Linked DNA regions of Homo sapiens: region 2 is linked to region 1. Evidence: fine-mapped expression QTL. Tissue or cell type: whole blood. Region 1 holds a variant in brackets; the other region holds the start of a gene. All regions are shown on one strand. Distances are from middle to middle.

What was found. PIP is the estimated chance that this variant, and not a neighbour inherited with it, causes the effect.
Region 2: LRRC75A starts here. The variant in region 1 is fine-mapped to the expression of LRRC75A in whole blood (TOPMed, PIP 0.96).

The regions. Positions count from the first base shown.
Region 1 is chr17:16,512,587-16,520,242 of GRCh38, forward strand. No RefSeq gene overlaps it. Among named protein-coding and RNA genes, the nearest start is that of LRRC75A, 24 kb to the left of the region's middle. RefSeq lists an enhancer at 3,698-4,897. The variant T/C (reference allele first, on the strand shown) is at 3,856.
Region 2 is chr17:16,488,414-16,496,069 of GRCh38, forward strand. It overlaps LRRC75A (leucine rich repeat containing 75A), which reads right to left and starts at 3,780. Exons shown (of 4, transcript NM_001113567.3): 1 at 3,332-3,780. The coding sequence starts at 3,577. All of the region lies in intron 2 of LOC124903936 (a long non-coding RNA gene), which reads left to right. RefSeq lists silencers at 3,383-3,442, 3,553-3,602, 3,693-4,032.

The DNA.
Region 1 (7,656 bases):
CAACAACCCCTCCCCCACCACTCCTACATTGGCAGTGGTGGCTGTCCAAAACGTGACAGGAGAAAATTCTAACTGTGCAAAATGTGATAGATCCTACAACATGATGATACATGAGATCTGTCATGTAACTCAAGCTGGAAAAATTTCAGCAAGATAAACTGACTGCCATACATCTTAACTAGTCCCTGTCCAGTTTCTATTGGCTAATGCTAGTTTGTTTCTTTTATTTTTTTGAGATGGAGTCTTGCTGTGTCACCCAGGCTGGAGTGCAGTGGCGCAATCTCAGCTCACTGCAACTCCCGCCTCATGGATTCAAGGGGTCCTTCTCTCTCAGCCTCCCAAGTAGCTGGGATTACAGATGCGTGCCACCATGTCCAGCTAATTTTTGTATATTCTTAGTAGAGACGGGATTTCACTATGTTGGCCAGGCTGGTCTTGAACTCCTGACCTCAGGTGATCCACCCGCCTCAGCCTCCCAAAGTGTTGGGATTACAGGCGTGAGCCACCGTGCCTGGCCCATCCTAGTTTCTTTCTTTCTTTTTTTTTTTTTTGAGATGGAGTTTCACTCTTGTTGCCCAGGCTGGAGTGCAATGGCATGATCTTGGCTCATAGCAACCTCCGCCTCCCGGGTTCAAGCCATTCTCCTGCCTCAGCTTCCCAAGTAGCTGGGATTATAGGCATGCGCCACCACGCCTGGCTAATTTTGTATTTTTAGTAGAGAAGGGGTTTCTCCATGTTGGTCAGGCTGGTCTCAAACTCTGGACCTCAGGTGATCCACACACCTCGGCCTCCCAAAGTGCTGGGATTACAGGCGTGAGCCACTGCGCCCGGCCATTTATTTCATTCATCATACTTATCATACTCTGTGATTCCTTGCTTGATTTGTTTACTTGTTTACTGTCCACCTTTCCTACCAGAATTAAGCTCCCTGAGGGCCAGGTTCCATCTGTCTTGGTTCTTGCAGTGCCTCCGTACCTGGCACAGTGGTTGGCATGCCCCTGCTTGTGATGTGTGTAACAGAATATGCCTTTTGCCAATGCTCAGGGTGTTGCTGGGGTTTTGCTGAGGTTTTCCACTTTTCTCTGCACATGGTGACTTAAAGGTCTGCAGGCACTTCTTTGAATCTACTCTTATTTCCGCCATGCCTCGCAGAAGTTCCTTGAGGTCTCTGAGGCCTGAGCGGCCGTTTTCTTCTATGTCTAGTGTAATCACCCTCTACTTTCATACTCTTTTAGTCATTTCAGTGACAACTTGGAAGATGGGGATTCCCGGTACGAGATTGGAAAGGCATAAAATGATACGGCAGTGATCGCTCTTTGGAGATGGTGCTCATAGTCTCACCTTCCAGGGGTTTTTCCTTCATTCTACAAATATTTATTTATTGGCAGGGGCTCGGTTCACTCTCTTGAGCCACTCTCTTGGGCAAGTTCCAAGTCCTCATGTTGACCTGTCTGCCGCATTTGCCATTGCGACTGCTCTTTCCTGTCTGGGGCTTTCTCCACCCTCTTGTTTCTCAATGCAGTAGGGGTCAAGACCCTGCTCCTTCCTAGTTTGCCTTCTTCCTCTTTGACATCACCTCTCCATCTTCCTCAGAGAATCCCCCCTTCCTTCAGTATACCACATGGCACACTGGTCCACTGATTTGCCCTTGTCCAGCTTCTCTTCCCAGGCAGTCTCCTCCGAGGCCTTTGGTTCAGTTCCCTTCTGCAGGAGCTGGTTCTCAATTGCGCGTGTGGAGTCAGAGCACAATCACATCTCAAACTCAACACGTGCAGGGTGGAGGTCGCTTCCTCCCCACACCCTTGCTCCTCTCGCTTCTCTTTCCCTCAGCATTTCCCTGCTCCTCATCCAACTTGCAGCCAACTCTTGTGGATTCTACATTCCCAGCATCTCTCTGGGACCCTACCTCTCCATCCTGGCTACCCTTGCCTTAGTCCCAGCCAGAATCATGTTTTTGTTTTGTTTTGTTTTGTTTTCCCAAGACAAAGTCTTTTTCTGTCACCCAGGCTGGAGTGCAGTGGCTCGATCTTGGCTCGCTGCAACTTCCGCCTCTTGGGTTCAAGTGGTTCTCCTGCCCCAGCCTCCCGAGTAGCTGGGATTACAGGCGCGTGCCACCACGCCTGGCTAATTTTTGTATTTTTAGTAGAGACAGGGTTTCACCATGTTGGCCAGGCTGGTCTCGAACTCCTGACCTCGTGATCCACCCACCTCAGCCTCCCAAAGTGTTGGGATTACAGGCGTGAGCCACGGTGTCTGACCCATGTTTTATGTCTGTTAGTGTGACCCCTATCTTCTTGCCTCCAGTTCTTCTCTCCTTTTAGCTCCTCCATGCCTCCTTTAAATGATCTTCCTATAATACAGCATTGTACTATATCTGCAATACAGCATTGTATCCGACTTCCTCCTTTCATTTATTTATTTATTTTTTTTTGAGATGGAGTCCTGCTTTTGTTGCCCAGGCTGGAGTGCAATGGCACAATCTTGGCTGACTGCAACCTCTGCCTCCCGGGTTCAAGTGATTCTCCTCCCTCAGCCTCCCGAATGGCTGGAATTACAGGTGCCTGCCACCACGCCGGGCTAATTTTTGTATTTTTAGTAGAGACAGGGTTTCGCCATGTTGACCAGGCTGGTCTTGAACTCCTGACCTCGTGATCTGCCTGCCTTGGCCTCCCAAAGTGCTAGGATTACAGGCGCAAGCCACCGCGCCCAGCCTGACTTCATCCTCAATACCTCAATACCTTGAATGCTGAATTAAGTCCCAAATCCTTGTCACCAGAGGCCCTTCATGGCCGGGCCCCTGCCCATCTCTCCAGCCTCCCCTCCATCCCTTGCACCCTACACTCCAAGTCTGCAGAACTGTTTGGAGGTGCCCAGAGTGTACTACCCTACCCTACCACACTGTGCTGCTTCCTTTTCACAAACACCTCTGTATTCGTTTGCTAGAGCTGTCATAACAAAATACCACAGCCCGGGTGGTTTAAACAACAGAAAGTTGTTTCTTCCCAATTCCAGAGGCTAGAAGTTCAAGATCAAGGTGTTGGCAGGGTTGGTTCCTTCAGAGGCCTCTCTCCTTGCTTGTGGATGGCATCTTCTCCCTGCCTCTTCGCGTGGTCATCCCTTTGTGGGTGTCTCTGTGGGTGTCTGTGCCCTAATCGCCTCATAAGGACACCAATCCTACTGGACTGGGGTCCACCCTAATGACCTCATTTTGACTTAATTACTTCTTTAGAGACCTATCTCCAAATAAGGTCCTATTCTGAGGTTGTGGGTATTAGACTTCATGAATAATTTTGGGGGGACCATAATTCAGCCCATAACGCTTCTCCCTCTGGCTAAAAATGAATGTCATTCTCACATGCAAAATACATTCACCCCATCCCAACAGTTTCCAAATCTTAACTCTTTGCAGCACCAACTTTTAAGTTCAAAATCTCATCTAAATCTCATCTAAACCCAGTATGGGTGAGGCTCCCAGTATACTTCTTCCTGAGGCAAAGTTTCTCTCCAGCTGTGAAACTGAAACCGGACAACAAGCTATGTACCTCCAAGACCTAGGGGTGGGGCCAGCATAGAAAGAAATTGGAAAGGAGAAAGGGGTCACGTGTTAGGGTACTTCCATGTATGCATTTTTGAGGTTAACTCAATGGAGAGTAGCCTCCCTTAGTGAACCTGGAAGATGCCACACGCCATTTAACGTCCACTTATCAGGGTGCCCATTTGGAAGCCTCTTCCTCCTGTGCTTCTCCGTACGCCACCCAGTATATCTCTCCATCTCAGTGCCATAACACTCACCACATCCATCTGATGGCTGACTCTCTTCCCTGCCAGACTACACACCTCACGACTTCCAGTACA[T/C]GCTCTATGAGTGACTATTACGCACATAAACCCCATGAGAGGGGCTTTGTTGTTTTGTACATGCTGTGTCCTCAGAGTCTAAAACAAGTCTGGTAGATGGCAGGTAATCAACAAATATTTGTTGAATCCGTGAGTGAATACAAATAAACACACACACCAAACGTGTATCATGTGCACATTCTGGATTCTGATTTTCCAGGAGTCTGTGAATCTATGCAGTTTCTTCAAGGAGAGTCCAAGGGGACATCAACACACTCCTCCTTCCCCTCAGTGGCCGGATACCAGCTGAGCAACCGTCAGATGTCTCCGGGTCTCCCGATGACTCACTGAATGCTTTCTTTGGGAGGAGTGGGAGGAGAGGATGGCTGACAAAAATAACTGCGGGCACTTGAAGCGGCATCAAGCCTCTGTCGGCGGGGGAACAACGGGGGCGCATCTGAAGGTTTCTCCCAGGCGGGGCGGGCAGCTCTCTATTCTTCAGCACCGGAGGTTCTCCTATGTGTTTAGAGAATTAGATAAACGTAGAGTGAATGGAATAAAACCGGCATTGCTCCCAAGCAGTCAGCTGCTCTTGCCATATGTGAAATTCTGTATCAGCTGTGAAGGAAACACACAGGAAGGGAGCTTAGTGAACACCGTTAAGGTGATCATTCTGTGTGTCTGTCTTTTTTTGTTCTTTAAAAAGGGCTTTATGCTTTGTATTTTATCTCATCTGATGATCACATCAATCAGGTCAGAAGGGCACTTTCACGGAAGAAAAAGGCTCAGAGAGAATCACTGACTTGCTGGAGAGGATCATTAGAGCATGGTTCTCAACATGTGGTCCAAGGACCAGCAGTGTCACCACCACCTGTGAACCTGGTAGACACGCAAACTCTGGGCCCTTTCCAGATCAGAAACTCTGGGGTGGGGCCCGGGAGCCCATTGTACAAGACCTCCAGGTGATTCAAATGCATAGCTGAGTTTGAGAACCCTTGGCTTAGAGTCACACAGGTAACAAGTTACAGATCCTGGGTGAGAACCCAAGGATGTCCTTGGATACTATACTTCAGTGAGTGACTTGCATGTTAGTAGCTGACAATATCTCTCAGGACAATCCCTTGCAATATTAATTTACATTTTGCTTTTGCTTCTACTTCAGTTTATGAAGCCCGGCACAGTCCAGTTCCGGCTACAGCTCCAGCTTCCCTCCCACTCACTGTGCTGGGGCCACACTGGCCTTCTCTCTGTTCTTTAGACACAGCATGCCCTTTTCTGCTCCAGGACCTTTGCACATACTGTTTCCTCTGCCCAGAATGCCATCCCTGCTAGCTTGATTCTTCTCACTTTAAGTCTCGAGGCAGTCATCCTCTTTTCAGAGAGAACTTTAGGACATGCCCATGATGCTCACAGATCGTTCTGTTTAGTCGCATCATAGCACTCGACACCTCCCGAAGTTAACTTGTTTGTTTATTTTATTTTATTTTTGGAGACAGAGTTTCACTCTGTTGCCCAGGCTGGAGTGCAGTGGCACGATCTCGGCTCACTGCAACCTCTGCCCAAGTAGCTGAGACTACAGGCACACGCCACTACACCTGGCTAATTTTATTTTATTTTATTTTTGTATTTTAGTAGAGACGGGGTTTCACCGTGTTGCCCAGGCTGGTCTCAAACTCCTGAGCTCAGGCAATCCACTCGCCTCCCAAAGTGCTAGGATTACAGGCATGAGCCACTGCGCCCGGCCACCTTGTTTGTTTATTAGAAAGTAAATTCCCTGAGAGCAGGGTCCTTCTGGTCCTATCCAATATTGTGTTTCCCAAGTTCACCACAGTGCTTGGCATATAGTAGACACTCAACAAACACTTACTGAAAAAATAAACCATGAACTAGAGGCAACTTGAAAGAGGGAAAAAGCACTTTCCTCCATTCTTGAATCCTGTAAGAATGGCCAGTCTAGGCTGGCTCTCCTTTGGGGAAGGGGGCAGGAAGAAAAATTAACAGTTTCTTGGTTATCAGGGATGCCTAATGGAAGCTGCAGTTGCCACAGATGGCAGGGGAGGGAAGTTAGGCTTAGATGGGAAGAGTGTGGCTGCCTTAAGACTTGCAAGGGGACAGCTCTCTCTCGGTTTTGTTTTTTTTGGAGACGGAGTCTTGCTCTGTCACCCAGGCTGGAGTACAATGGCGCGATCTCGGCTCACCACAACCTCCACCTCCCAGGTTCAAGCGATTCTCCTGCCTCAGCCTCCTGAGTAGCTGGTATTACAGGCATGCACTACCACACCCGGATAATTTTGTATTTTTAGTAGAGACGGGGTTTCTCCATGTTGGTCAGGCTGGTCTCGACCTCCTGACCTCAGATGATCGGCCCGCCTCGGCCTCCCAAAGTGCTAGGATTACAGGCATGAGCCACCGCGCCTGGCCTCGGTCTTTTTTTTATTGTGGTGAAAAACATGTAAGATGAAATCTACCCTCTTAACAAATTTGTAAGTGTAGAGTACAGGCTTGTTAACTTTAGAACTTTCTCATCTTGTGTGACCGAAACTCCACATGCATTGAGCATCAGCTCCCCATCTCTCCTCCCCAAGCCCTGGTAACAAGCTTTCAGCTTTCAGCTTCTATGAGGTTTTTTTTTTTTTTTTGCTTTAGATTCCATATAAATGGAATCATGCAGTATTTGTCCTTGTGTGACTGGCTTATTTGACAACAAATGTCTTCAAGGTCCATTCATGCTATAGTATGTGTCAGAATTTTTTTCCTTTTTAAGGCTGAATGATATTCCTTTGTATGCATGAACCACACTTTCTTTGCCCATTCATCTATTAATGCACTCTTGGGTTGCTTCTGCCTTTTGTCTACTGTGAATGATCTTATTATGAATGTGGATATACAAATGTTTCATTGAGACTTTGCTTTCTATTCTTTTGGGTATATACTCAGAAGTGGGAATGCTAGATCATTTGATAATTCTATTTTTAATTTTTTGAAGAGTCTCTGTTTATCTATTTATGAGACAAGATCTTGCTCTGTTGCCCAATGGCTTGATCATAGCTCAATGTAGCCTTAAATTCCCAGGCTCAAGCCTCCTCCTACCTCAGATCCCCAGGTAGCTGGGACTACAGGTGTGTGCCATCACGTCTGACTAATTTTTTATTTTTTGTAAAGATAGGGTCTCACTGTGTTGTCCAAGCTGGTCCTGAACTTCTGGGCTCAAGCAATCCTCCCGCCTTAGCCTCCCAAAGTGCTGGGATTATTGGCTGAGCCACTGTGCCCAGCCCATACTGTTTTTATAGTGGCTGGGCCATATCGCAGTCTTACCAATGGTGCACAAGGGCTTCGATTTCTCCACATCCTCATCAACCCTCGTTTTATGATTTTTGTTTTGTTTTTCAATAATGGCTATCCTAACAGGTATGAGGTGATTTCTCATTGTGGTCTTGATTTGCATTTCCCTGGTGATTAGTGATGTTGAGTACATTTTCATGTGCTTGTTGGCCACTTGTATATCTTCTTCGGAGAAATGTCTGTTAAAGGTCTTTCCTCATTTTTTTTTTTTTTTTTTTTTTTTTGAGAGGAAGTTTGACTCTTGTTGCCCAGGCTGGAGTGCAGTGGCGCGATCTCGGCTCACTGCAAGCTCCGCCTCCCGGGTTCAAGCTATTCCTCTGCCTCAGTCTCCTGAGTACCTGGGACTATAGGCACACACCACCACACTGGGCTTATTTTTTTTGTATTTCAGAGGAGACTGTGTTTCACCCTGCTGGCCAGGATGGTCTTGATCGCCTGACTTCGTGATCTGCCCGCCTCAGCCTCCCAAAGTGCTGGGAT
Region 2 (7,656 bases), 24 kb before region 1:
AACCCTGCCCCTACTGGGGCCAGACCCAAAGTGAGTAAGGCAGATTCTCCTGTTTCACAGTCACCAAGAGAATGTGTCTTGAATGGCAGCACCAACACCATTTCATTCACTTTGTAGCATTTGCTGTGCTCAGTACCCCAGATCCCTCTTTGGGAAACAAAGAAACACAACTCAGAGAGGTTATCTGCTGGGCCCAAGGTCACAGCTGACTGAGGACCGGAAGGCGAGCTGCCTACTTGATCCTTGGCCCTGGACTCTTCTCAGATTACACTTATCTTAAAGGGAAGGGGATTACTTTCTGTTCCTTCAAGGCAGCTGCCTGGCATCCTGCCTGCACCCCTGGCCACAGCTCAGGGTCATTTGTGCTGAATGAGGCCTCCTGATACCTCTCCAGCAAGTGACAAGCTGGAGAGACGCCCTCCAAATCTTAGATGCTGAAGAGGGGCATTCAGAAGAAGTGGCACCAGCAGCCACAATCCTTCAGCCCACCGTGAACTGCCACACATGCACCCGGGTCAGGTCCCTGTTTCCAGATCCCCAGCCTGGAGCAAGTCACAGCAGGGAGAAGGGTGGTATTGGACTGGAGCAGAGATTCTGAGCTTGGAGTCTGTAGCTGGGTTTCAGGGGCTTTGTGAACCCTCCGAAATTGCCTGTGAGATTGCGTGAGTCAGTGCATTTGCCTGGGAAGATTGTGTGTAGCTTTTTCAGAGCCTCAAAAAGATCAAGGACTCAAAGAGGCTAAGAAGCACAGGAACAAAGGCTCCCGAGTCCCCACCAGCCATATGGCTCTGGGCATACACAAATCCAGCAGCCAAACCCAAGTTATCAAATGCAGGAGAACATGCTGTGTGAATGGAGGTGAGGGCTACTGTCCTCGCTGCTGCCCCTCCCTGGTTCTGTGCCTGCTCATTGACTCCCACCCCAGAGGCCTGCATGACATTCCTGCAGAACAGGGTGCCCCACGCTTTGCAGACCCCTGTCTTTACTGGCTGTCTTGCTGAGGAAGAGGTTCTTGCTGGTCTGACCCCTGTGAGGCTTGTGTGTTCTCAAGGCTCTCACTAGCTGCTCATTCCCTTTCTGAACATCACCACCACCAGACTAGAGAAGGAAACTGGAATGGAAAGGAAAATGCAATTTTGGAGAAAGAGCCACTTCAGTGCACAGCACAAATCCAGCTGGACATTCCTCCAAATGGCCTCAGGGTCCTAGAAAGCCACCTCTCTGTCATAGGCAAGTGAACACTCCTGTGCTCCACTCCCACACTGCTCAAGGCCCATGACCACTTTCGGGAGGGGTCCTGCTCCATCCGTTCCAGGCCACACAGGGCAGCTCCAGGCCCACGGCCCTTGCATCCCCAGCCAGGGGTTAAGGGAGCCCAACAGGAGCCCAGAAGCCCAGAGCCTGAGGACCTGCTGCTTTCACAGAAAAGGGGGAAGTCTGATAAGCCCCCTCCCACCCCCCCATCAGCCCTCCCAGTCCTGCAGCTGAGGCGGGTACCAGGACACCAATAAGACCCATGTGCAGATGTCTGAGGAAATGCTTCTTGTTTCAAGGATCCCACAGTGGGGCTGCAGGGGCTTATCTACTCTCCCTCAAGGCAGGGAGAAGCTCAGTGTCCCCAGGATGTGGAATCACACTCAGCCCTACAGGGACTGGGGAGCCCAAAGTATCTGCCCACTTTGGGTCCAGTCTCCTCCCGTGGGCCTCCAAGCGGCCCTCCATCATGCAAGCTTCGCTCTGGTCTTGCACCCTCCAAGAAGTGCTTGCCAGCTCCCTCTGTTCTTCTGTATCCCCCAAAGCACCCATTGCAGGGTGGGGGAAACAGCATGTGATCAGGAAAACCTTACTGTATGGTGTGTAAATAGGATACCATGGTCTGGAAAACCCAATATTCTGTTTAAAAGTGAAAGAGTTACTATAAAGGCCATATGTCAGCTTCCAATTTTCAAAAGACAAAGAAATACACACTGCTAAAGTTCAGTGGTGCATAATGTCATCTTTCTTTGATGACTGAACTCAGAGAAGGCACATGGGGATCCAGCAGCGTCTCGGGCATCATTCTGGAAGTTGTTGGGGAAAACAGAGGCAGAAGCAGAAGTCCCACATCTTCCCAAGTCCCCTCGTCTCTGCTTGCCTCTCCCTGTGCAGTGCACAGCTTGGGGACACATACTTTAGGGTAAGAGCGCACCAGATACAAAGGTGGGGAAGAGTGCTGCAGAACCCAAGAGGGATGTGGGTCTGATTAGATTTTGGAAGCTCCTCCCAAGAAGGTGCTCCTACAGCCTCTTTCAGCAGCGACTGGAAAACCCCAGAAAGGTCACCTGAGATTTTCCCTCTGCCATCCACGGTAGACTCCACCTCTAATGGGGTCAGTCTAGCAAGAATATGGGGCCTGGATTGTCTACCCACCAAAGCCAGGCCAAGACAACCTGCTTGGTGATGCAGGAGAGCAGCTTTGCACTCCCCTGCCTGTCTTATACTCAACAAAATCCATGGCATGGGCCATGCTCCTCTCCCCACCAAAGAAACTGACAAAGGAAAACAAGCCACAGAGAGGTGAGTGATAGCATTAGCCTCAGGGCAGCCCCAAAGCAGAGGGAACTGGCCAATTCCGCAACATCTGTCCCTAGCCAGTGGGACAGGCACAGGCTAAGGACAGAGTCCTGGCAGTCTCCTGAAGTTGCTGCTGGCCAGGTGGTCACACAGGGCACCAAATCCAGCTCCCCTGTCTCTACCGCTTTCCGCAGGGGCTCATGGTTGAGGATCTGCTGAAGTTAGTCAGGGGAGAGGAAACAGTCTCCTCCTTGAACTACAATCCAGGATGCCTCCCAGGCGAGTGAAGGACCTAGGGACTGGAATCTCATTGGCCCCAGGGCTGTGCCCCTGGACTCGCTCTCGGGAAGCCAAGCCAGGTCCAACTGATAACCGCATTCCTTGAGGACCCTCGGCCGGGAGTGACTGCCAGTGGGCAGACAGGAAGAAAAGAGCCCTGGCCCAGATCAGGCAGGCATCCCTGCTTCCCCGCCCACCGACTGTCCCCGGAGACCAGCCTCCTTCTCTGCCTGCGGAGGAGAGCAGTGGGGACATTATGCCAACAGGTCCCCTTCGGCGGGCCTCACCCGGCCAGCCTTCCTCCGCCCTGCCCTGAGGCCCCACATTCAGCGGAAGCGCCGAGGCACCTGCTGCCAGACAGGGCTCCATCCCCGCGGAAGGGGCCCCTGGGCGGTGCCCCTCGGTGCCCCCGGCTTCCTCGGTTAGGGATGGGGCGCCCCCCCCGGCCCAGCACGCCCCCTGGCCCGGCGCGCCCCCCGCGCCCCCTCCCCGCGCTCACCTGGCGCAGGTGCTGCAGCAGCGTCCCCGCCTCCTCCCGCCGGCCCTGGCGCACCATCCGCAGCAGCTCCTGGACCATGCCGACTCGCCGGTGGTAGGGGGGCATCCCCGCGCCCGCGCGCCCCGCCTTGTCCCCGGCGCGCAGCAGCAGCGACGCCCAGAAGTCCGGCCGTTCGCGTCGGGGGCCCGGCGCGGCGCCGGGGCTGGCTCTCTCCGCCAGGCTGCCCTTGGTCTGCCGGGTGCCCATGCCGCCGCCGCCCGCCGGGACTCTCCGCTCTGGGCCGCGAGGCCGCGTCCCCGCCAACCGCCCGCCCCTCGGCCGCCCGTGCGCGCTCGCCTCCCGGGCTGCAACTTTGGGGGAACTGTTGCGCGCGGGCGTCGCGGGGGCGGGCGGGCGGGCGGCTGTCGGCGCTCCCCGCGCTCCTCCCTCTTGGCTACCCGGGCGCGCTCCCCGGGCGCTCGCCGCCGGCCCGCCCGCCGGCCCCGCCCCGGCCCGGCTCGGCCCGCCCCGCCCCCCGCCTCCGCGCCGGAGCTCCGCGGCGTCGCGCGCCTCCCTCTTCTCGGGCTCCCGCTCCTTCCCGCCCCGCGGCTCCGGGCTGGGGACCACCACCAGGCGCCCCCTGCCTGCGTCCTCTCGGCAGTCGCGCCTCCTGCGGGCGGCAGTGCTGCGCTTCCCGGGGCCGTGGCGCGGGGGCGAGGGGAACAGGCAGGCCCCATGGGCCGTCGCTCTCGGTCCCCACCGGGCTCCCCGACGCTTCCACCACCGCGCGCCCGGTGCGTCGGGCGAGATGGGGAAAGTTTGGAGCATGGGGGTGTGTGTGTTGGGGGGCTCTCTTAGGCCCAGAGTCGGGTTTCTCAAGGTGGGTTCCGCTGAGCCTCAGCGCCCAAATCGTCGGAGGCGCTGGTTAAAAACGCAGGCTCTAAGGCCTCCACCGAGACCTACTGAATGATAATCTCCTCGGTGGGGCCTGGGATCCGCCTTTTTAGCCAGCATGTTGGGTGATTCCCATGCACGCTCCTTTGAGACCTGGCCTGCTTGCAGGGCGCTGTAGTGGTGTGGTTGGTGCGTAAACCTGGAAACTGTGCGAGCTTATGGGTTGTGTGCGTGCCCTTCTATGGAGAGGGCCTGTTGCTTCCATCATGCTCTCAAAGCATCTGGACCGGAGAGGTGTGAACTCCTGTGTTCTCTTGTTCTCACTCTCACAGCCCTGGAGAAGGGTCCCTGGGGTAGTCCTGGTACAACAAAGCAAACGCACGTCTGCGAGTAGGCCCAGCGGTACACCCTGCTGGCCCACCTTCCTCCCCGTGCCTCTGCCAGGCCCAGTCTGTAAGGGACCAGAGCCCTGGGATCTCATGGTGTTGCCAGGGCTTGCCAGAGTGAAGGCGAAGGCAGGTGGGGGAGCTTCTCTGTTGCAGACCACAGGCCGCCCTGGTCCCAGCGCAGGGCAGAAGCAATTGTGCAAGCTCGCCTCTGACCCCAGCTCTGGGTGTTGCTTGAGGGTGTAAGGGCACGTGGGCTGTAGGGGCAGGAGGCTGGATCCCAAATCACAGGGAGCTGAGCCCCACTACTTAGTGAGCACTGAGTATCAGGCGAGTCTTCAGCTTCTTGAGTCCTGATTCTTCCTGTCAGGCTAGGATAATAACACTGCCAAGAATTGGGAGAGTAAACTCGGTGGACACTGCTAAAGGAAAAAATTATTTAATGACATGAGTTAAAGCATCGTAAGGAAGACTTTATTCAGGACCATTACCATAGGTGTAGGGACCTCTGCTATGAGATTTTGCAGTTGCAGGGAGAGAGAGATTGAGCTCAACTCCAATTACAGCATGGGCAAGTGGGAATTCGTTGCTAAGGAGCAGGGTGGGGGTCAGCGGATAGAAACTTAATAAGGGAAACATCAGGGCTGAGGGGGATTCTGGCTAAACAGGTTGTATGGAGCACCCTTGACATAAGTAACTCCATCTTAGAAAAAGGGTCCATTTTACATTTGAAAAAGCCTCATGCCAACAGGAACCAGATGTTCGCCTAATCAATAAAGACTACACCCCACCAGATAAAGACATAAACAGGCACACTCTTTGCTATCAGTCCTCACCAGAGGATTCTGTAGCCATAAAAAGAGCAGGACTTCAGCAACTGGAGATGACCGTCTGGATAGACCCCATCTTGCCCACACTCTGCCCACATCAAAGACTCTTCCTTGCAAGACACTGAGGACTGTTTGGATCAGGCCAGGAGACTCCCCTTGTCCAAGTCACTCTCCTTGGACTATATTGTTAACCGCTCCTTCCCTATCCCCTTTTCTCTTGATGTTAAATGTACTTTGATGTGGAATGTGTAATCTATAACATTTATATATTGATTAAGTATACTACCATGTATGGTTGGCAGTATTGACTGACTTGTGGAGTGACTTGAGCCTGTATGCCCACAGCTCTTATTACCAAGTGAATGGGGAAAACTAAGGAGAATTTGCCTCCTTGAGAACCCCATGTGGCTTGTGGCTTTTATGACTGAAATAGCATCAATAAAAGCCTGACGTTGTAGAAAGACACACATGTGCATGAACCTGATTATTTCTGACTTTGTGGCACTCACAACACCAACCTAACAGAATTCTTGCTTTAGACAGGCCAGGTGACCAGAGATCACCTGGGGGAGGGTGGGGGATGATAAACCTAATCAGATATTGAAGATGATCAGATATACAAGATGGAGGGTTCTTGCTAAACTGTCTTAACAGGGTCTTTGCTAAAACTGGATTTTACATGGAAGTGCAAAGAGGGTCTAGGAGAAGGTTTGGGAGCCTGACTAAAGTTTGGCCAAGCAAAGAATCTTTGTCAATATATAAACTTCAAGCAGAGTAGAGATGTTCTGCAAATGAGTTCCTCTTCCTGCTCTGTGATCACAGGGTTTTCCATAGGTGTCTTCTCCGTTATCCCTGAGTACCTTGAGTATGAGTCCTGGCATCTCTCCTGCAGGCATTCTCTTCCCTTTGGCCACCCCACTCCCAAATGTCCATCTCTGCCAGCAGAGAACACTCAGTCTTCCTACAAGCTGGCTTTGCAGGGCTTGGACAGCACTTTCCAAACTTACCTGAACCCTTTGCATAGGAGCACACACCTGCTGGCATCTCCAGAGAACCCAGCTTGAAAAATACTTATGTGTCTCTCATCTCTGGTCTGCAGGACCACCAGACAAAGTGGCCACCAAGGACACCTATTGACCAGGCCCCTCCCTACAGACAGTGAGCTCTACCCACCTGGAGACAGACCACACAACCTAGATAGCCTGTTGGCCTGCTTGAGGGTGTGTGGTTGGGGCAAATGCCATTTCAATGGGAGAGGGGCCAGACCAGCCCCTCACTTGGGATCTGAATGTTAGCCCTCTCCTCTTTTTCAGAGACCTGATTCTATCCTCCTCCCCTTGCTCTTGATTTTTTTACCCTGACTTTTCCTGTTTTCTGGCTTGTTCTCCTCAAGATATGCTCTACTCACCTCTCTTCCATCTATTGAAAAATTTCATTTGCATCTGCCTGCTTCAGTCACCAGTGCCCCAACTTTATCCTTTCTTTTCAGCTAAGATTTTTAGTTTCCCTCCCTCCCTCCCTCCCTTCCCTCCCTCCTTCCTTCCTTCCTCCCTTCTTTCCTTTTCTCTCTCTGTCTTCCTCCCTCCCTTCTTTTTTTTTGAGACAGGGTCTCACCCTGTAGCCCAGGCTGAAGTGCAGTGGCACCATCACGGTTCACTGCAAACTTGATCTCCTGGGCTCAAGCTAGCTTCCCACTTCAGCCTCCCAAGTAGCCAGGATCACAGGTGCACGCCACCATGCCTAGCTAATTTTTGTAATTTTTTTTTGTAGAGACGGTTTTACCATGTTGCCCAGGCTGGTCTTGAACTCCTGGCCTCAAGCAATCCTCAGGCCTTGGCCCCCCAAAGTGCTGGAATTACAGGTATCAGTCACCACGCCCAGCCTATTGTCATTCTTTCTTTACCTCCATTCGTTCCTCACCCACTTCAGCTTGGCTTCTGGCCACACCATGTCACTAAAATGCCTCTTGCCTTTAGCCTTTAGCAACAGCTAAAGAAGTGACCTAGTTGCTACACTCAGTGGCCACATTCAGTCTTCATCTTACTTGACTTTTAAGCAGCATCTGATCCTGTTGCCTACTCTTTTGATTGAAACTCTACTCCCTTGGCTTGCAAGGAACTACTCTCCTCTAGGTTTCTTTCTTGAGTTCTCCTGGGAGCTCCTTTTCTTACCCTCATTCTTTACTTGTTGCCTTTATGCAGGGTACTACCCCGTATCTCTTCCTAGGCAATGCTAT